Homo sapiens: one gene and its partners. The protein of the gene in region 1 interacts with the protein of each later gene in a pairwise test. Each region holds a gene or a part of one and is shown on either strand. Other genes may lie near its edges.

Region 1 (7,251 bases):
AAGTAGTGCCCCAGGTTCTAGAATGCCTCGCCCCTGGTTAGCAAGTGAGTATCACACAAAGAACCAGAGTTAAGGTTGTTTGGGAACGAGGAAAACAGAGGCTTGAATGGCTCTGAGGTTCGCTTGGTGACAGCTGCTTCTTTGAGTTTGCCTAATTGAGAAGGGGAAATGAGTCACAAATGTTAGCCTGAAACACTAAATGATGCTGTCTGCCCAGCCAAAGCCATGTTCTGAAGTCCTCATAACACACTCCACTCTCCATTTTGCCCTGGGTGCCACTTAAACATTGCTTGTCTCTTAAACTGGGTACTCCTGGAATCCTATCCTCTTCCTTCTTCTGTCCTTGTTGTGTCTTCTCTTTCTGGGTAGTCACATCCTTTCCCATGGCTGCCTGAAGACCAGCAGTTCCCCAATTCCTATTCTCTGGTTTACTGTTCCCTTCAAAGCTGTAGTGAACAGGCCACTGGACATCTCAACTCTGGCCATCCCACGGGCATCCATGCACAACACAACCACCCTGCCCTCCTCATCCTCACTCCTAACTGCCCTCCTTTCCAGTATTCCTTATCTGGTGACTGACAGCTTCACCCAAACATCTGCAAGTACCACCCTGGAATGCCTCCTGGACTAGCCACCACGGTTTTCTGCCTGCATCCAACCAGCCAACAAACCTGTCCTTTGACTGCATATCTTGCTGTGTCCGTGGCTTCCTCAAAGCATCACTTCCCTTTTCATACTGACTTTTAGGTGGTTCTGGTCAGATTCAAATAAAGTGTTCTGCAAGGCCCTTCCTGATCAGGCCCCTGGCTTCCTTCCACCCTCCTCTTCATTGAACCTCCACTCCAGCCACCTTGAACTGCTTGCAGTTGCACCAGTGTGTGACAGTCCTGGCCCCCTCGTCTAACTCAGTGTCTCCCCATGGGGTCTCCATACATCCTGCAGCACCCTTTATCATGGCACTGACTGCATCATTTAGGGTGCCCCTCCAAAGTGGGGGATGGTGACGATTCTATCTTCTGCTCCTGGTGCAACGCCTGGCTCTTGACATGTGAGATAAACATATTTTATAAATTAAAGATGGAAAGGAACTTTTTCTCAGAGTTTTCCTGGGTTGGGGGTGGGTGGGAATCTCGAGGTTATAATGCATCCCATTGTATTTTGTAGAAAGGACAAATCCCCGAGGATTTTCATGGGTTCCAATGGAGCCTCGGATTTTCTAGGTTTGCTTGAGCGACTCATCACCAGCCTCTCCATTTGCTGTGAGGAGTGGACCAACCATCTGCCATCCAGGAGCTGATGACTGCAGAAACCTGGGCATCATTGCCTGCCAAGTTTAAGAAAAATAAGATAGAGAATTGGAGTGACAGCTGTCCGGGTGCTGAGAGTCAAAGCTGATGATTTCCCTTAGTATTTTTGTCTGTGCCTTCAACAGAAGCACCATGCTAAAACACTGTTGTGCTGCACAGCTGAGAATCTGGCATTTGTTGTGGGTGGAAGGCAGTGACCAAAGGTGGAGGCAGTTTGGGGAAGGTCAGTCAGTATTTCACGTTGTTCCTGGGGAAATAATCACAGAGACAGCCAGTCAGAAATGAGGCTGGTCCCCCTCTTCCCTGGCCTCCTGCCCCTTGGATTTGTTGGCACTTTGGCTGCCAACAGATTAATGAAATCTTTTCAATCCTGAAAGAAATGACAACCTCATCAGGAAAAAAGTGTATTTTCAGCATTAGATGGAAGATAATATCAAGAAACAAAATCTTTTCCTATGTAAGAGCTTTAATACTTACCTTGTGCAAAATGTTGTGAGTTAATATCGTGGTTTCAGGGGAACAATTTTTCTCCTCAAATCTTTAGAGTTATTTCCAGAATTTCAAAGCCTATTTCAAAAACTATAGTTTTGTCTAAAGTACAATCAGCTCTGTGAATGGAAGGGTTGCGGAAGGGAGAGTGTTCACACTGAGAGATGAGATAGTTATCTGCTTCCAATGCCAATGCATAACATGAATGCTGTCGAGTTTTTTTTAAAAAAGCTTGAGATTTGTAATGCCAAAAAAAAAAACCTCTAATGATTTTTTTAAAAGTTGAAACAAGATGAATTTAATTACTGAGCTGCTCACAATAACTAGGAAACAATTCCTCTGTTATAAATTGTATTTATGTATTTTTCCCATGCAAAAAGTACAGGAATTATGAAACACAAATGATTAGAATTGTACGTTAGATTTACATAGTGAATCTGAATAGAAATAACTCCTTTTCTTGGATAATAATATTTTACTTTAAATTAGGTTGTTATACTATTAAAGGAATCCAGATATATAAAGTTGTTATATTTTTCATCACAAAAGTATTTTTTAATGTAAAAAATTGTCACACTGTGTTTCATTATAAGGATTCATAAATTTGCCTCTTTTATTTTAATTTTTTACAGCTCTTTTTGAAGTACATTTTTTTTCTTTGAGACAGGGTCTTGCTCTGTTGTCCAGGCTGGAGTGCAGTGGCATGAATTTAGGTCAGCACAGCCTGGAACTCCTGGGCTCAAGCGATTGTCCTGCTTTGGCCTCCCAAAGTGTTGAAATTACAGTTGTGAGCCACTTCGCCTGGTCCAATTGCCTCTTTTAAAAAGAATTGTGTTTAGAAAAAGTGCTTGTTCATACCTGTTGAGGAGCACAGCTATCAGGAGAGCAAATGATTTTTTAAAAATATTTATTTATTTATTTATTTTTATTATTTTTTATTTTCTGAGACGGAGTCTTGCTCTATCACCCAGGCTGGAGTGCAGTAGTGCGATCTGCAACCTCCACTTGCTGGATTCAAGTGATTCTTGTGCCTCAGCCTCCTGAGTAGCTGGGATTACAGGCATGCTCCACTTTGCCCGGCTAATTTTTGTGTTTTTAGTACAGACGGGGTTTTGCCATGTTGCCTAGGCTGGTCTCGAACTCCTGACCTCAGGTGATCCACCCGCCTCGGCCTCCCAAAGTACTAGGATCAAGGCGTGACGACTATGCGTGGCCACAAATAATTTTTAAATCAATATTTAGAACACATTTAGGGTGAGTGTTTAGAGCTTGACAACTTTCTCATTGAAGATTATTCCGTTTAAGATTCAACAGCTCAAGAGTCTGCAAATCTAGATCCTTAACCAGAACTTGCTTTTATATCTTTTCCTTACAAGAAGAATACCCAGGCTGGGACTTCAAGGCCCCAGAGAGGCAGTGCAGCAAGTTCCTGGGTTCAAATCATCCTTCAGCTACTTCTTAGCTGTGAGACCTTGGGCAAGTTACCTAGCCTTTCTATGCCCCAGTTTCTTCATCTGTAATTTGGGGCTAGTAATCTCTTCTTCATAGGTTTGTTGCAAGATTAAATTAATTTACATTAAGGGCCAGGTGTGGTGACTCATGCCTGTAATCCCAGCACTTTGGGAGGCCAATGCGGGCAGATCACCTGAGGTCAGGAGTTCGAGACCAGTCTGGCCAACATGGCAAAACCCAGTCTCTACTAAAAATACAAAAAAATTAGCTGGGCGTGTTGGCGCACTTATAATCCCAGGTACTGGGGAGGCTGAGGCAGGGGAATCTCTTGAACCTGGGAGGTGGAAGTTGCAGTGAGCCAAGATCACGCCACTGCACTCCAGCCTGGGCGACAGAGCAAGACTCCATCTCCAAAACAAAACAAAACTAATTACTTTAAGAATTAGAACAGTTTATGACTGGTACATAGTAGATCCTCATTAGACACTAAAAATTATAATTACAATTGTTAATTATAATTATTTATTATTATAATTATATGAGCAATTATAGGAAAGCTCTCACTCTTTCTAAAGAATTTGCGTGAATAAAGGAAGACTAATTTTCTCAATGTCTTTTTAGTACACTCAGAATTTTCGGTACAGCAAATAATTTTCAGTGAAGTCAAAATTATTTAGATAAAGTCTTCTCTTCGTGCCCTAGCAGAAAATGTTCAGAAACAAAATGAAATAAAGAGACAAAGGAAAAAAAAAACTGGCAAAGGGTCAGGTTTTGAGAATTGTTTTCAAGAAGTCATTGTATTCAGATTGGTGGAGCAGGCTACTGTAAACCGTAAGTAGGAAATGAGAACCCGTTGTAAGTTGATAAAATGGATGTCTTTTCAACTAAACAGATTGCTATCAGCCTAACAGAGCCAACTCATGTTCCTTTTCGGCCGGTCATTTCCTGTACTAAGTGTCTATAAGAGCCGCCCATTTGGGTGTTTCTCAGGATTATAGGTTTTTAGGTCACGCAGAAACCCTGGGGAACGCCTGAAAAGGCTAAACACAAGCAGTTACATTATGCACAAGCTGGATGACGTGACCCCGCTGCTGCTGTGTGGAGAGGGAGGCTGCTGAACCCGAGCTGGTGTGAGCTTCTCTTGCCGTAAGTCCACGGGTGGCCAGGAGCACGTGTTAGTCTGGTTAAGAGCTCTGCTCAGAAGTAGCCGCTGCAGCTGAAGGTTTTCAGGCGGGCTGAAGGCTGGGCCGCTTCTTCATTCATTTCAGAAACTTGAACAGTGGGCCTTCTACACACGCTGTCTTTGTCAGCCTCAGGCAGTTCCTCCATGGATGAGACACAGGGGCCTCTGGCCATGACTGTCCATCTTCTTGCCAACTCTGGGCACGGCTCCCTTCTGCAGAGGACTCTGGACCAGCTCCTGGATTGCATTTGCCCAGAGGTCCGGCTCTTTCAGGTGTCTGAACGGGCCAGTCCTGTGAAATACTGTGAAAAGTCCCATTCCAAGCGGTCCCGGTTTCCAGGGATGTCCGTGTTGCTCTTCCTGCACGAAAGCCCGGGAGAGGATAGGCTATTTCGCGTCCTGGACTCTCTCCAGCATTCGCCATGGCAGTGCTACCCCACCCAGGACACTCGGGGAAGGCTGTGTCCCTACTTTTTTGCCAATCAGGAGTTCTACAGCCTGGACAGTCAGCTGCCCATCTGGGGGGTGAGGCAGGTGCACTGTGGCTCCGAGATCCTGAGGGTGACGCTGTACTGCAGTTTTGATAACTATGAAGACGCCATCAGACTCTACGAGATGATCCTGCAGAGAGAAGCGACCTTGCAAAAGAGCAATTTTTGTTTCTTCGTGCTCTATGCCTCCAAGAGCTTTGCTCTGCAGCTCTCCCTGAAGCAGCTGCCCCCGGGAATGTCAGTGGACCCCAAAGAGTCTTCGGTGCTGCAGTTTAAGGTTCAAGAGATCGGCCAGTTAGTGCCTCTGCTACCCAATCCATGCATGCCTATCAGCAGCACCAGGTGGCAGACTCAGGACTACGATGGCAACAAGATTCTGCTTCAGGTATTTCTGTTTTGTCTCAGATCTTGTAGAGGCTCATGGAGCTGTGTAATTTTACATCGGAATGGGCCTAAGCTAGTGGTTCTCAGACTTGGTTGCATATTAGCGTCCCTTAGGGTCTTTCATAAATTCCCACCCCAGGGCAGTTTGATCCGAATCTCTGGGAACATCCAGGCCTAGGTAACTTTTTTACAGCTTCTTGGATGACTGTAATCTGTAACAGGGTTGAGAATCACTGATCTCATAAAATCTCATCTGACAGATAAGAAAGTTCAGATTCCATGAATTTGCAGCTGACACAAGTACTTTATAGTAGAATCAGACAGGATTCTACTATAAAGATCAGAATCCTATTAAAGAATCGGCCTCCTTTCTCAGGCTTGCCGTTTAAATGCCCATCAACTATACCCCTATCCTTTGTTTACTCTTTGGGCTCAGGAATGTCACAAGCTCTTCTAATCTGACTTAAGGAAGTTGAAGTCATACTTATGTTTAGATATGGTTTTTTTAATTTTTAATTTTTTTATTTTTTAGAGATGGGAGTCTTCCTCTGTTGCCCAGACTCGAGTGCGGTGGTGCCATCATAGCTCCCTGAGGTCTTCACCTTCTGGGTTCAAGTGATCCTCCTGCCTTAGCCTCCTGATTAGCTGGGACTACAGGCACGTGCCGCCATGTCTGGCTATTTTATTTTATTTCTAGAGACGGGGTCTCACTATGTTGGCCGAGCTTGTTTAGGGATGTTAAGTTTGCAGTACTATTGACTTAATTTTTATTCTTTATTATTATACTTTAAGTTCTGGGGTACATGTGCACAAAGTGCAGGTTTGTTACACAGGTATACATGTGCCATATTGGTTTGTTGCACCCATCAACTCGTATTGACTTAATTTTTAAGCATCTTGCATCACTGTCAAATTTTACCACATACCAAGTTAGATAGAATGCTTTCTTAAAAAAACTTGAAATTAAAGCCTTCCTTTGTAACCATCCTCGAAAACCTAACATAGCATGTGTGTATTTAGTCATGATAGCTGCCGTGCATTGCCTTTCCATGGTATGTGAGCCTGGGCACTTAGTAGCTGTATGACTGTGGGCCTCAGTTTCTTCATTAGCACAATAAAGGCACCCGAGAATTAGCATCTTCCTCTCTCATACTTACTTACAGGAAATGACCTGACACTTATAAAGTACATAATTAAGATAGTGCCAAGAACTCAATTTTAGCTATTATTGTTCATATTATGCCCTATACTAAGGATTCTCTTAAATTGATAATTTTATTTAATACTTATAACAACCTATGAAGTTACTATTTTTCCCATTTTGGAGATAAGAAAACTGAGCTTTCCAGGGGGTCAGTTATTTGCCCAAGATAGGAAGTATCTATCTACCCTCAAAGTTCATGTGGTCAGCCGCTGCAGTCCAGTGTATGTGTGTAAATGTGCAAGCAGGGGGATGAATGTCATGTTCACAGCAAAATATCCTGTGGCTTCTGTCCTTAAGAAATGGTCAGAAGCTCCTTAAGGCCTATTGAATAAAGTAATAAGAGACTACAAGATGAGATGTCTTTCCATTTGGTTAATTTTGTTGTCATCACTTTGACTTGTTAATAAAACATGAATCATATTCCATATTAAATGATTTCTAAATTATTCACCTTCTTGCTCACATAAGGTAGACAGGCACTGTTTCTGTTAGTTGCCTATTATAAAACCCCATAATTTCCAAGGCATCTAAAATTTCTTTCAGTTTTAGCGACTCTCTAGTACTTAAAATCAACCTCATGGTCAAACAAAAATGTAATGTGTGTGTGCAGCAAGGGACATGATTTTAATCATTCCTGTCTTTAAGGCTGACTGACATTTTTGCTATGGAACCACAGTTTAAACAACTTAGTTACTTTGGAAAGTTGAGTCACATTTGGGGAGTGTAGAAGAGTTTTTTGGA
Region 2 (7,686 bases), on another chromosome or scaffold:
AAAATTGGATCCTCTTCCCCAAGTACCCTGAGCCTAGTGTCAGAAATGCTGGGTCAAGGCACTCGGCAGTCTCTAAATCCTGAGGCCATGAATGGATGTTCCTTCAACCCAAGGAGCAAGCTTTCCTGGTCATCAGCCCCATTGCTCTTAGAGGACCCAACAGACTAGTAGCTGATCCTCAGGGTCTCTCATCTGTATGCCCACCATTTGTTGTTTCCTCTTTGTCTCTCCTGTGTCTTTCTGTTTCCCTGTCTCTGCGTGCCTTCTTCTTTCCTGTCCCCTCTATGTTCTCTGTCGCTGGAGTATCCACTGGAGACAAGGGCTGGGCTGGGTGCATGGGCGGGTAGTGGCCAGACCAGGGGCCCGGGACATGAGCGCAACTTTCCAAGCTTCTCTTCCAGGCCCCTGTGGTTGGGGAGCTCCACAGAGGGAGAGATGAGTCAGCGGGGCCGCAGAGCAGCGGGGGCCTGGGTGGGGGTAGGGATGCTGGGGTTCCCCAGGACCAGGGAGTTCGCTGGGGCCATCTGGGTCTCTGAACTCTGGTGTGTGTGTGGAGTATTGGATCAAAAGTACCTAAAGGTACACTGGAACTTCTTATACTAGTAGGAGTTGGAGGCAGCAATTTGCAGGACTGGCAGTGGCCTCCATATCACCCTTATCTCCAGATCCTTATAGGGAGAGGGGTTCCCAAATGCCCTTTAGGAGACCACAGAGATCTCCAGGGCTGTAAAGTTGTAATGGTAGCCCTGGGTATATGTATGTGACATTTGCCACATGTGTAGATACGTGTGTTGATGGGAGTCTGTGAGTCCATGTGGGGAGTATTCTAGGTGGCTGTGAGTCTGTATGCATGTATATATATACTGGTGTGTGCATTTTTATGATTGGGGGTTAGGGTGTCTTGGGGTAAGCATTATCTGTATATGTATATATCAGTGTGTGTCAATATGGATGCCTGCATAGTACAAATGTGTATGAATTATGTGTCACCTTGTGTGTGTGCAAGTATGCAGATCTGAATGTGTCTGTCATCAGGTATGTATTAGGGCATGTGTCAGTCTCTATTTCAGGGGCTCTGCTCACTATTCTCTGGTGATTCTCCCTAGGGTAGTCAAACCTTCTATAACAGCAACAATGAAGAGTTGGGAGTCCCTTTGGATGAGGCTCTTAGAGACAGCCCAGCCTAGAAAGGTGGTAGAGGGTGATGGTGTGGACGATGGAAGTAGCATCCCTTGGGAATAGGGGGTACAGGTCTCCCACTCTCCCCAGTTTTTTTTTTCTTTCTTTTTTTTTTTTTTTGAGATGGAGTTTTGTTCTTGTTGCCCAGGCTGGAGTGCAATGGCATGATCTCAGCTCACTGCAATCTCCACCTCCTGGGTTCAAGTGATTCTACTGCCTCAGCCTCCCAAGTAGCTGGGATTACAGGCACCCGTCACCACGCTCAGCTGATTTTTGTATTTTTAGTAGAGACGGGGTTTCACCATGTTGGCCAGGCTGTCTCAAACTCCTGACCTCAGGTGATCCACCCACCTTGGCCTCCCAAAGCGCTGGGATTACCGGCGTGAGCCACTGCACCCGGCCCCACTCTCCCCAGTTTTCATTCTGTTTTCACCCCACTGATCTTTCCAAAAAGATCCAAAATCATTTGGAGAACTGAGGCAGGTGCCAGATTCAACCCCCTCTAACCTACAAAGCCCACCCTGATTCTCCTAGGGGAGGGTGGGAAGGGAATGGTTCCTGTGGTTCAGCCCAGTCCTGGCATTGGGATATCAGAAAGGCATCATCCCACCCCTTCCGTCTGGGGCATCCATCCCTTGGAGCTCAGCGTCTGGGTGGCCATGGGCGGAGGCTGAGGGGCCCCCAGGGTGGTGGGGGGTGGTGGATAGAAACCAGATGCCTAGGGGGTTTATACTGGAAGGACCAGAGCCGCAGCCTCTACCCGCCCCTGCCACATGGCGCCTCTCCCTGGTCTGCCCCACCCCCTGGGAGGCTGGGCTGAGGGAGGCCTGAGAGGGTGGAGGTAGGTCCTTGGTTAGGGCTTCCAATTGCTGCCCCCAGCCCCTCAGGGCACTGGGAAGGAGACTGGGGAGCTGGACCCAGGAACACCAGAGCCTCAGCTGGGCTGCAGGACTATTTTTAAAAAGGACATGGAGAAGTCAGAACCCAGGGGTTCCTGAGGGCAGCAGCTGGGGGATTCAGGCAGCCCCTCTGCCTATCTTTGGCGCTGATCTCTGGTGGGGAAGAGGCTCTGTGTCCAGAGGGTGTCCTATGTTGACACATCGGGGCACTGGCTCACATCTTCCTGGGACTCTGCTCCTCCTTTTTATTTCTCCGAGAATAGTAGGGTTCGAATAGAGAATAGTAGGGTTTGAATACGTCTGCCCCTTCCCGGGTAGGGTTAGGGATTAAAGCCCACACGGGGAGTGAGAAGGTGACCCTTCCTTCCAACTCCTCTCCCCAGCCCTGTCTGTCCATTTATCTTTCCATCCTTCCTCCTTTTCCCCTTCAGTTTCTTCCTTTCTTCTCTCATCTAATCTGAGTCCCAACCCCCTCCTCACCTGCTATCTCTTCTTTAGAATCTAGACTTTCTCCTCCTCTGCCTCAGTTTCCTGCCTGATCTAACTGGGTCGGGCTTTTCTGCTGGTGATACAGGAATTTCTCTAAAGCTTCTCTTTCTCAACTTCTGAGTTCGGGGCCCCGGAAAGCCATCTGGCACCTCAGTCTCAGACTCCCCCCCAACAAGGGGGAGACCGCGAGGTCACAGGGACACCCCACCACGGGCACTTCCTCTCAGGCAGACGGGTGGGGTGGCCCGTGTAATCAGCGGACACAATTATGTGCTATTTATACTCCTTCCCCGCCCCCCCACCTGCCTGGCAACACAACCCTCCTCCTCCTCCTCCTCCTCCTCCTCCTCCGGACCTGGCTATGCCTCAGGCTATTTTCTCTGTCCTTCCCAAGCCATTGTCTCCCCATCTTTGTTCCTCTGGGCCTGTTTCTTTATCTTTTTAGTTTCTTTCCTGCTCTGTTTTTTGTTGTTGTTGTTGTTGTTGTTTAAAGCCACACATCTGGTCTTCTGTTTTCCTGTTTCCTCTCTCTTATACCTGGTGATATCTCTTCTGATTGTCTTGGACTCTTTCATTTGCTCTGTTTCTTCTTTTGCTGCTTTCTCTTTGTCTATCAGCCACCTGGTTCCCAAACCCTTCCCCTAAACCTTGGGTTCCCAGAGTTCCTTGAGGTAAATCAAATCATGGGGCTAGAATCCAGAACTCCTGGGCCCTACCCTGAAATTGGTGCCTACCTGCTGGCGAAACTGCTGTGCAACCCTCCGTGGACCTCCATCTGCTCCTGCCACCTCCCAGCTTTTTCTTTGGAGATCTGGGAGAGCAAAAGGAGCAAGGAATTGGGCACTCCGAGAAAGTGAGGGGATGGTGTTGCAGAGTGAGGAGAGTGGAAAGGATGGGGCTTTATTCCCCTGACAGGGAGAGCTGGGAGGGGGAGAAGTGTGTGTTAAGGAATAACCTGTAAAACAACCCCAGCGGGCTAAGCCCCCCTGTGGGAGAGCTGCCGGTGTCACCACTTAGCTGCCCAGTCCTCTCTCCCATAAATACCTCAGGGCCCATGGCCCAGGTTTCAGGTAATAGACTTTTTGGGTTTCCCTCCTAACCTGGCTGCCCTTCCTTCTCTTACTTCCTATTTTGTTGGGAAGTCCTTATTAAGTTCTAACTTCAGTTCTTTCTGTGGAAGAGGGAATTGATGCATGGCAATGAGAAAGGGAACCAGGAGTTCCCAGGAAAGTCAGATCACTCTGGAGAACTGTCCACCAAAGGATGGAGATTAAACCCATGGTCTCTAAGAGATGGTAACTTGGTTACCCAGGGATGGTAACTGACAAGGAATATGGAGGTTAGGGCATTTCTTTTTGGGGGAAATAATCCAAAGAGGTTAGGTGTCGGCATGAATGAGTTGACCCAATGACCTTCTACCGCCACCCTCACTCCTGCTTGTCTTAAATTTTCTCTTCATCAGAAGATCCAGGTTCTGCCCCACAAAGTGAGGTAGGCCTAGGTATCACCTCCAAACAGTGAAACTGAGGCACTGGGAGGAAGACTGAGGGACCCCCAAGCCAATACCAAGCCTTCCCCAACTCTTCAACCCTTCCTCCAGGCCTTGCTCTGGAACCAACCTCAGTGACACTAAAAGTTTAGGCAGCAGAAACCTCCACCTCAGAACCTTCCATGCCTCTTCCCACAACATACACACACACACACACACACGGGCACGTACACACACACAGGGGCACATACACACTGCTCTCCTGATCTAGAGGCAGGTGGGTGACTGGGGAAGCAAGCCTCTCCATGGTCAGCTGGGGCGGGTGTGGTGCGTGTGCCTCCAGTGCGTCACTGTGTGCATTTGTGTGTGTCCGTCTGTGTTCATTCATGATAGTGGCTGTACCCATGTGAGTGGTACTGTGTGTACGTGTGCATGCATCACCCCTGTGTTTGGCCATGAGTGTGTATGTCAGTGCGTTCCAGTCTCTCTGTGTGAGTGTCGTCCCCAACCCCCCATCCCCCCCCTGGATCTCTAATTAGTGGTTTGGGGTTTGTTCCTTTTCCCTCCTGTTCCTTCCCTCAGCAGCGGCGGGCGGCAGCAGCCTAGGCAGCAGCAGTAGCAGAAGCAGCAGCCGCCGAGCAGCAGCAAGGACTCTGGAGTCAGAGTAGGACTGTAGGACCGGAGCCTGAGTGGAACAGGAGTGGAGCTGGCCTGGGAGAGAGCGGATCCCTCCCAGCACCCTCAGGCCACCCGTTGCCTGCACTCTCCCTGCCAGACCTCCAGAGAGGAGAGACTCGGGACAGCCAGCCCCAGGTTCCCCCAGGTACATGACACTGGGGAGCTCTGGGAGGGGTGCCCACAGATGCCTATGGGACTGCTGCCGCGTGTAGGACACCGGGGTCCACCATCCCTTTAACCTCTCCCCTCAGCAGCCCCCCGAGGAAGCCCTGACAACTTGCCCATGCTGCTCTCCCCTCTTCCTGCTTCCCACCCCTTCCATGGGCGCCCCTTTTTCTCCTCTCCCTCCCTGATCCCTTCTTTGGGGAGCTCAGCAAATGGAGCAGGAAATTTGGACCCTCTGCCTCCCTCTCTCGCCCTCCTCATTGGATCTGGAGCCTTCTCCGCTGGGAAAGCTGTAATTAGAGGGTGGATCCCTACAGACAGAGAGCAGCCCCCCACCCCGGTCCCTTCTAACTTTAGATCTCTTCTCTCCCATTCTCCCATTCTCCCTCCCTCTCCCTTTTCTCTCTCTACCCCCCCCACCCCCCGGCTCAGCTCTCTCCATCTGCCTGGCTCCTTGGGACCCGTTCCCCAGCCTCAGGATGGCGTCCTCCCTGCTTGAGGTAACTGTCCCCTCTTCCCCCCAGGAAACCAGCCACAACCTTAATGGTCCTAGTCCTTGCCCACCCACCTCCTCCAACTCACATAGATAGTAGCTGTGGTGCTTGTCAATTCCAGGGGTCCTTCTGATGAGGAGAGAGGAGTGGGGTCCAAGAAAGGGGAAGCAGAGGGCAGGAGAAAAGGGAGGGAAGAATAGGGCCAGGGGTCAGAGGGCAGTGGAAAGAGGGTGAGAGGGGATTAGGTCAGAAGAAGGCATGGACCCCTACCTAAGGTCAGCTAAGCACACTGACTGTGAGGAGTGGAAAAGCGATGGAGAAAGGAGGGGGAGGGGGGCGAGGGGGAGTGAGGAGAGAGGGGTGGGAAATACATAAGCTGGCAGAAGAGATAGAAGGCAGAGAGGACTGGCTGAGTGGGCACAGAGCAGCAACTGGGTATAGCTCTTTAGGGGTCCCGTCTCCTGGGACTCGTAGCCCAGACAGGATCTTGCCTGGTTTTGTGGGGAGGGGGCTGGGCCCGTGAGCTGGTGTGTGGAGGAGAGGAGGTAGGCTATGAGAGAAAGGAGGAGGCCAGCCTGTGCCTGTGGGGGAGCTGACCAGGGGAACTGAGCCCAGGCCTGTGAGGGAACCAAGGAGGAGGGACGGGGTCTGAGGCCGCTTGCCCGGCTTACAAATATTTAGCTTTCAGCCAAAGACAAACTCAGCTCTATTTTGGGAGTGGGAGGCTCCAGGGCGGACTGGGCCACTTCCCCTCCGGGCTGGGACCCCAGCATCCCTTGCCTCTGGTGCTGGGGACAAAGGGAATTGGGGTACCACTGGGGTCAGGGTTTGGGGTCTTGAGAAATTTCTGACTCTACTCTGGCTTCTGGGGGACCCAAGGCACAGAGTTGGGAAGGCAGGGCTCACAGCCACTCAGGGCCAGATTCCTCCCTGCTTCTGGGTCTCTGACACTGTTCCTCTGTCACCATCTCTGTCCTGCTTTCTGGGTCTCTCTGCAGGAATTTAGGGCCAGAGGGCCCTCCCTGAAAGTCAGTCCCCTTCAGTAGCCTTGACTCTTCCCTATTCTTGGGTCCCACATCTCTCTTCCCAGTGCCCTAGCTCAGGCCCAGGGGTGCTGGGCCAAACAGGAAGCCAACTCACTCAACCTGTGGGAGAGGTGTGTGTTTGTGAGATGGGGCAGGAGTCTTTTAACACCTGTGTTCATTGGCCTGAGTGTAATCGTTAGGGTGCAGTCGAGGGTGCCACAGGCCCTGAGAGTGTGTGTGTGTGTGTGTGTGTGTGTGTGTGTGTGTGTGTGTGTAAGTTGGGCCATCTGAGTGCTGTGAGTCCAAGTGATAAATGGTGTGTGCACAAGGCTGTGAGATAGTGAATTTGTGGCTGAGTTTGGGGGAATAGCATGCAAGCCAACCAGATGGACACCACGTCCCTTGTCACACTCTGTATCCAGCCAGGGGTCTACCCGTAGCTGCAATGGGAGCAGACTGTCATCCTGCCACCTCCCCAACAGACTCTATTTTGAGCCATCATTGAAACACTGTGGTCTTGAGGAATAAGATGCATGGAAATCCTGGGTCCACCCAGGGCAGGGACAGTGTCAGTGGGCGTGGGCATCATGCCAGTGTTGCCAACGTGGCGCTGGTGGCTTGGGAGGGACTGGCCCAGAGGCCTGCTGGAAAGACATGGGATTGGGATAGTGCATGGCGAAAGGAGAGTGTTGTGGAAGCTAGACTTTCATGTCCCCTCACTCCTGTGAGCTGGAGATGCCTGCAACACGAAGGCACACCAGTCCCTCCTGTCCCTCGACCACTTGCACCTAGTTTTTGAGTACCTGGGCCCTCAACTTCCTCCCCACCTCCCCAGGAAGCCCTCCACCTTGTATGGGTGGGCTCTCTGGCAGTGGGAAGCAGCTGCTGCTTGATGGGGGGCTCACCTCGGCCAAGTGAGATTCAGGGGAACAGGGAAGGGGAAGAAATTGTTGGGGGCCTAGGTGGGAAAGGAGAATTGGGAAGCTGGGAAAACGAAGAAACTTGGGAGAAGGCTGAGAAAGTTGAGAACTGGAAAATGGGACCTTGACTGCTCCAAACCTAAGGCCAGTCAGCCCTGAGATGTCTAGTGAGCACTTCCGCTGGGAGGCCAGGCTGGGCACTGCACCATGAGCTCCCTGGGAGGAGGGGATCCCCCTCCCCTGCTCCACATCTGGGTGGGAGAGTTGGGACAGCTCCTATCTTGTTCTTTTTCCAAACACTCCCACTTCAATACTTTAATTCTGTTTGTCTTGTTTTGTTTTGTTTTA
Region 3 (7,260 bases), on another chromosome or scaffold:
AATCAACAAAAGCCTCATGACTGTAATATCAGGGATCGCATCTGTGGGAACACAGTGGTCACGACCGAGGGCAACGTGGTGATGTTTAGCAGCGAGAAAGCGGGCCACCGTGCAGTCTGATTAATGCTTAATTATAATAATATTTCTGTCCAGAACCCGACATGCAATTCTTGTCAGCCCTGTGGAGACAGTTTTGTTACAGGAAAGGGGTCCGGATCCAGACCCCAAGAGAGGGTTCTTGGATCTCCTGCAAGAAAGAATTCAGGGTGAGTCTGTAAAGTGAAAGCAAGTTTCTTAGGAAAGTAAAGGAATCAAGAATGGCTACTCCATAGTCAGAGTAGCCCTGAGGGCTGCTGGTTGCCCACTTTTTTGGTTATCTCTTGATGATACGCTAAACAAGGGGTGGATTATTCATGCCTCCCCTTTTTAGACCATCTAGGGTAACTTCCTGATGTTGCTATGGCATTTGTAAACTGTCCTGGCGCTGGTGGAGAGTGAGGACGTCCAGAGGTCACTCTCGTGACCATCCTGGTTTTGGTGGGTTTTTGTCGGCTTCTTTGCCACGACCTGTTTTATCAGCAAGGTCTTTGTGACCTGTATTTTGTGCTGACCTCCTGTCTCATCCTGCGACTTAAAATGCCTTCACCGTCTGGGAATGCAGCCCGGTGGGTCTCAGCCTCATTTTACCATTTTACCCAGCTCCCGTTCAACACGGAGCTGCTCTGGTTCACATGCCTCTGACGGTTTCACCTTCTGCTCAGAGCATTTGGACCTCCACAGGCTCTGACTCAGCCCTCTTATCCCAGGCTGATCCCATCCCCGTCTAAAAATCCCACTAACTTCCTTCTGAGAAAGTTGAGAGTCTTGTTTATACTAAAGTGTTAATGACTCACAAAGCATTCCCAGAGGAAAAGTTAACAGGAGGAGACTGTGAGGCTCTGGCGGTGAAAGGTCAGGCATGAGCCCTGGGGGAGATGTTTTCTTCTCTGGAGGCCCCTCCTGAGACCCCCCATCTCTGCACAGGAAGACGAACCCTGTGCCCAGCGGGTCCACCTATCTGCCCACGTGGCCCCAACCCCAGGCTTCATGGAGTAGAGCAGGGCTCATTCGTGTGGCACCCACACGCAGTTTCAGGGCGTGGACTTTCCCGGATGGCTGGGTGGCTTTGGGGGAGGTGTGAGCTGTTGGTGGAGAATGCTGAGCCCGGCCCTGACGACGGTCCTCTTTTCCTGCCTTAATAGGCTAGTCCCCATCACTGTGGGGGGCAATTTGGGGATATTCTCCTCCAACTCCTGCTGGTTCTGAATCTTGCAGGGAGCTGCAAATCCCAGTCACTGTGGGGTCTTGGGGCTTCTAGGAGTCCCTGCTGGGCCCAGGGCTTTTTTCTCACTGACCTGGAGGCCTCTCCCCACGGCTCCCCATCTGACATCTTCTCAGCTGGGAGACTTAATTGTAAAGACTCACAGGGATCCAGGGGGCATCACAGGGGGCCCTCCTAGGTACTGACAGATGTTTATTCATTTTGAAAAATGGGCAAATAGCAAATAAAGATGTTTAGGGTATGTTTGGAAGAAAACAGCAAAATAGTAACAGCAGTGCTTACCGCTCAGCGGGGAGAAGGCATATGGGTTTTCCCAGCTTTTATTTGGAAATCATTGTAGATGCAGAATTGCAAAGAAGCCTAGAGGTGTCCATGCACCCTGCCCCACCCCACGGTATCATCCTGCAAAGCTGCAGGGCAACTGCCAAATCCAGACACACACGCCCCGGTGCCCACAGGGATGGCTCAGACATCGAACTTCGCTTTCTTTATACTCCCAGTATTCCCGACACTTCTGGAATAGGCACATGACCATTATTTTTAGCTCCTTATTTCTTTTTATTTAATTAAATAAGCAACATATGGATAGTCCTTGTTTTGAGAATTTTGGGCCGGCCGCACACGGCAAAGCAGCTGAGCGCCCCTCAGCAGCTCCCTGCACAGTTACGCACTGGGATGGCACTGCGATGCGTGTGGAGAAACACCTGCTGGGTTTGGAGGTGCACAGGACCTCGGGGCGATCCCACCGGAGGAGCGGGGCTCGGCTTATGGCCCAGCTAACCCCAACTCCCCAGTGGGCCCCAGGGCCTTTCCTTCCACTTCCAGGAGTGACACCAACCTTGTCTCCTCTCCGAGCCCCAAGCAGTGGGAAGAGAGGGTCCCATAACAGGCCATGGCAGCGGCCTCTGCTGCCTGCCCACCTCAGAGGGTCCCCAGCTTGAGAGTTCAGAGCAAACCTGGGTGCTGCATGTGTCTCTCCCCTGGAAGAAGCAGGCTGGAGACAGTGGCCCCTCTTCCCACCTCCCCGGTGCACTGCGGGCAGACTGGGAACCAGGCAGCAAATCCACCCAGCTTGAGGCCCACGTCCTCCTGAAAGGGCCCCAGGCCCACACCCGGGGTTTTGCTGAAGTGACCAAAGGTAACCGCTGTGCTGAGGGGGCGGTGGAGGACAGGGAGGGGGCGAAGGCGAGGTGGGCGCTGGAGGACGTGGGGGTGAAGGCGAGGTGGTCGCTGGAGGACAGGGAGGGGGCGAAGGTGTGGTGGACGCTGGAGGACAGAGAGGGGGCAAAGGCGAGGTGGGCGCTGGAGGACAGAGAGGGGGTGAAGGCGAGGTGGGCACTGGAGGACAGAGAGGGGGCGAAGGCGAGGTGGGCACTGGAGGACAGAGAGGGGGCGAAGGCGAGGTACCCTGAGATCATCCCAGAAAACACACTGGGAAGTTCTACCTTGTGTCTAGCCTAACTCCTTTGCTGGCCCTCAGGCCCTTTCCCGACAGCCCTCCCCTCCTATGCCCCTGAGCTTCCTGCTGCCTCTCCCTCTGCGCCCTGCAGCCCTGGCTTCTGGGCTCTATCCTCAGCAGGGCCTGCAGACACCCCAGAGGCCTTAAGAGCCTGGGAGGGGTTTCCAGCCACACCCTTCACTTTGATTTCTGCAGGAAACCAGGTGGCTCTGGGCCTTGCATAGGAAAGGGTTGGGGGTCTCGCTGGGGCCTGGCAACACTGGCCTGAGTATGACCAGAACAGTCACCAGAGGCCTCCTGGGAGGGCGGGTGCAGCCCCAGCCCCCGCCGTGAGTGGGGGTCGGGGGGCAGGTGTGAAAGTGTGGTGGGCAGCAGCTGGGTCTATGCGGCTCAGCAGTGGGAAGAGAACGGGCCAGGCTTCCAGGTGAGCTCAGGGACGGTTTTCACTGCAGCTAACCCTCTCCTGCCCACCTGCGCTCCCCGTGGCAACCAGCGGCCCTGCAGCGTGCGACTCCTCTTTATTCTTCCAAACTCTGTGAGCCTGCACGCTCCCATCCAGGACGGAACAGCAGGGGAGAGTGGCTGAAGGATGACAGGGGGCTTTTAGGGCCAGCCGGGTGGATGAGCTGGGTTTGCTGGGGTTGAGGGCTCAGTCGGGGGTTGGGGGGTGTCGAAGTCTGGGCCCCATCCAGCTGTCCTTTTTGTCCCGCCCAGGTGTCCCTGGGGTTCCTGTTCTGCCCCTGGCTTCTCTGGGGTTAAGTCCTCCTCCCTGTTCCCTCACTGTGGGGTTTGGCAGTGTGGCACAGTGTGGAGCTTGGACCGGCAGCCAGGGTCACAGCAGACCTCAGGAACTCCGATTCCAGTGCCAACACTGAGTACTCCTCTTTTGGGGGCATCAGAGCCTCTCCCTTGGCTACCTGGGGAGGCTGGTATGGAGGGAGGTGGAGGGAGATGGGGGAAGGGGGAGCGGGAGGTGAGGGCAGCTCGGGCCCTTCTTTTTGCTCTGATCTTCCTGGCCTGAGGACAAGAGCTGCTCCCAGACCTGCAGAGGCCCCTTGGGGCAGAGGGATGTTTCAGAGAACAGCCGGGTGACCTGCCTCCCTGCTCTGCGTGACGCAGCCCTAGGCCCCTGTGAGGCTAGAGTCACCCCCGCAAGGTGGGAGGTCACGGCCCCTGCCTGCACAGGCAGCACAGCTCACATGTCCTTCCTTGAGCCTTCTCTGCTTCCGGAGGCTGCCCTGGGCGCCTGACCTTGGAGCCATCATCTCCAGCTCCCCAACCCCTCCCCCACAGCCCTGGGGCAGACACCAGCCTGGGGAGGGGTCTCCATGCTCAGTTCCTTCCCGTCTTGTTCAGAGAGACGTGGCCTGCCCACGTGCAGTCAGCGGCATCCGCAACCCTGCCAGGGGCCCCGTGACACGCCCCCGCTGCACAGAGCATGTGACCCCAGAGGCCACCCTGGCCACTTCCAGAAAGCTGTGGGCCCTGGGATACTCCCCTCCCAGGGTGTCTGGTGGCAGGCCTGTGCCTATCCCTGCTGTCCCCAGGGTGGGCCCCGGGGGTCAGGAGCTCCAGAAGGGCCAGCTGGGCATATTCTGAGATTGGCCATCAGCCCCCATTTCTGCTGCAAACCTGGTCAGAGCCAGTGTTCCCTCCATGGGACCTAAAGACAGTGCCAAGTGCCTGCACCGTGGACCACAGCCGAGCCACTGGGCAGCCGGTGATGGTCCCACGCAGGAGCGCTGTGGACCCCGCTCTCTGGGCAGCCCTGTCCTAGGCCTGGACACCTGCAGAGCCTGGGACCACGTGGATGGGCAGATCCTGGGCCAGCTGCGGCCCCTGACAGAGGAGGAAGAGGAGGAGGGCGCCGGGGCCACCTTGTCCAGGGGGCCTGCCTTCCCCGGCATGGGCTCTGAGGAGTTGCGTCTGGCCTCCTTCTATGACTGGCCGCTGACTGCTGAGGTGCCACCCGAGCTGCTGGCTGCTGCCGGCTTCTTCCACACAGGTCAGTCCCGGGCGGGGGGGCCTTCCTGCCGTGGGCCTGGGCACGATTCTGGACCCTTCCAGCCCAGGGCTCTGCCTCCTCCGTAGCATCCATCCCCCAACAGGAAGGGTCTGGCCTGATGACGGAGCAGTGGTCCTGCAAGCCCCTCCAGTGCCCATGGGCTCGTGCCTGACACCCTCCCCCGGAGTCTCTGCTGGCTGAGTGTTTCAGACCGTGGGATGTGAGGAGGGGCTGCCTCTGGCCACAGTCTGAGGGTCTCAGCTGTGGAGGCCGCCAGCTTGGTGCACAAGTACCCCTTTGTGATAGAAGTGGGTGGGGCTGACATTGCCTGGGGCCCTCACCTTCCCCGCTGCTGTTCTGCACAGGGAGAGGAGATGTTTAAAGAACAGGATCAGGGTGACCAAGGCAGGCAGTGGTCAGCCAGAAGGTCCTGGATGCTCAGCCTGTGGGGAATTTCTCCAGGCCCCAACCTGCAGCTACTGTCTGGTCTTCCCCAACTGAATCAAGTCCCCGGAGTACCTATCCTAGTCTTGGCCCGGGCCTGCTCCTCTGCCCTACAGCTGCAGACCATGTGGTCAGACCTGAGTTCAGGTCCCAGCTCTGCCACTTCCTGGCTGAAGGACAGGGCAGCAGGGCCCACCGAGGGCTTTACAAATACTGGCACAGCCATGGTCATTGTCAGCAGTGGGCTCTGGCGGGGCACCATCCTGGTAAGGCTGGACCAACTTAAGACAGCTGGTCGGGGGGACAGTGGCTGGGACAGTCAGAAGCCGTGGCGTGAAGGGGCAGGCCCAGCTCACCCACCTCCCTGGAAGTCCAAGGCTCAGGAGGCAAAGGCCAGGCAAGAGGCATGGCAGGTGCAGAGCCGGGGTCTTTGGGGCTGGTAGAGGTCCAGTGCCCGATGCAGCCCAAACCTGTGATGTCAGTGGCAGGTGACGTATCGCATGGATGCCGATGAGGGGACGGGGTCGCCAGGAGGTAGAGAGATGACGGGTCCCCCACCCCCAAAGGGAGGCATGAGTTCCTAAAAGCAAGCCTGGCCCCAGACTGGCCTTCTAGGGCAGCCTCCCTTCTTCTTCTCACTGGGAATCCATCTTGGGGAAGCAGAGACCTGGGGAGGGGCCCTTCTGGCTCCTGAAGCCCCAGGGCTATAGATGTACCAAGCCCTGGGGGGCCCCCACTGCTCACTCTGGGAACAATGCAAATGCCAGCTCAGTCCTTTCCTGAACATTCTCGCCCATCCTGGCCGGCACCCCAGTCACCCTTGTCCCCTTTTCACCTTTGATGCTAATGAGGTACAAGTGACATCCCCCACCAAGCCCCCTGCCCACCCCCTCCTCCTTCTTGCCACCTGGGAGCTCCCCTCCAGCTGAAGCTCTCATAGCCTTGGAAGGACACACCGGGGGCCCGGGGACTGGGTGGGACTTGGCTGGGGCCAGCATCTCTCCGCACCCCAGGCCATCAGGACAAGGTGAGGTGCTTCTTCTGCTATGGGGGCCTGCAGAGCTGGAAGCGCGGGGACGACCCCTGGACGGAGCATGCCAAGTGGTTCCCCAGGTACCGGCTGCCCCTGCGGGGCCCCGGGTCTGATCATGGGTAGGGGGTGGGCCCCCAACGGCTCTGTCGACCCAACACCAGGCCTGCTTTGCCTCCCTGGCCCCACAGGGCACTGGGGAGGCCCTTCTGTGGGAGGTGCTTCTGGCCGGCAGGTACCCACTTTTCCTGTGAGGGCCCCTTTTCGGAAGGGCTGCTGGGGGCAGAAATGCCTCTCCCATGGGACTACCCTGAAGCCCCATGGAGGCGTCTCCACAGCAGCCCTCCTCGCCCATGCCCACGGGCACTGCAGGGTGGCGGGAGGAGGGGGCCCAACCCTGACCCCCGGGGATCCAAGGGCTTGAAGCAGACAGTGGGGGCCCTGAACCCCAACCTACATCTCTGGGGCATCTGCAGCTGTCAGTTCCTGCTCCGGTCAAAAGGAAGAGACTTTGTCCACAGTGTGCAGGAGACTCACTCCCAGCTGCTGGGCTCCTGGGTGAGCGCCACCTCTCCTCGGGGCTCCGGGTGGCAGTGGGGTCCTGCCCCTCCTATTTCCCCAAGGCCTGATGGTCTCTGGCTCCTTCCAGGACCCGTGGGAAGAACCGGAAGACGCAGCCCCTGTGGCCCCCTCCGGTGAGAGCTGACACCACCCCTGCTGACTCCTTGTGCGCCTGCAGCCTGTGCTTGGCCAAGGCCACTGGGTGTCCCCACCCTCCCAGACAGCAGGGAGAGTGACGGGCACGTGACAGGGTGTGACGCTGCTGCCTGGGTTGGCTTCAGGGGGCTGTGCCATGTGAGGGTGGGGGCGGGGCGGCAGGGGCCTCCCCCAGTGCCAGGCCCCATTCTGCTTCTCTCCCAGCTTACCCCTTGGGCACAGCCCATTGCCTGTCGCCATACCACCCCCAACAGTGCCCAGCACACAGCATCTGCAGCTACTGC

The links. Proteins that work in one complex are often made in the same cells at the same time.
Region 2: the proteins of FAM124B (region 1) and SP7 interact in binary tests that used the Homo sapiens proteins (3 or more experiments, as listed by UniProt).
Region 3: the proteins of FAM124B (region 1) and BIRC7 interact in binary tests that used the Homo sapiens proteins (3 or more experiments, as listed by UniProt).

Annotation. Positions count from the first base shown.
Region 1 is NC_000002.12:224,399,093-224,406,343, reverse strand, and holds the start of FAM124B (protein FAM124B), read left to right. Parts: upstream 1-4,236; 5' UTR 4,237-4,575; coding exon 4,576-5,307; intron 5,308-5,838; coding exon of another isoform or gene 5,839-5,925; exon of another isoform or gene 5,926-5,967; intron 5,968-7,251.
Region 2 is NC_000012.12:53,333,339-53,341,024, reverse strand, and holds the start of SP7 (transcription factor Sp7), read left to right. Parts: upstream 1-4,670; 5' UTR 4,671-4,879; intron 4,880-5,248; exon of another isoform or gene 5,249-5,331; 5' UTR 5,332-5,378; coding exon 5,379-5,399; intron 5,400-7,686. UniProt on the Homo sapiens protein: Transcriptional activator essential for osteoblast differentiation. Binds to SP1 and EKLF consensus sequences and to other G/C-rich sequences.
Region 3 is NC_000020.11:63,231,661-63,238,920, forward strand, and holds the start of BIRC7 (baculoviral IAP repeat-containing protein 7), read left to right. Parts: upstream 1-4,244; 5' UTR 4,245-4,436; coding exon 4,437-4,785; exon of another isoform or gene 4,786-6,242; coding exon 6,243-6,342; intron 6,343-6,735; coding exon 6,736-6,817; intron 6,818-6,908; coding exon 6,909-6,954; intron 6,955-7,118; exon of another isoform or gene 7,119-7,182; intron 7,183-7,260.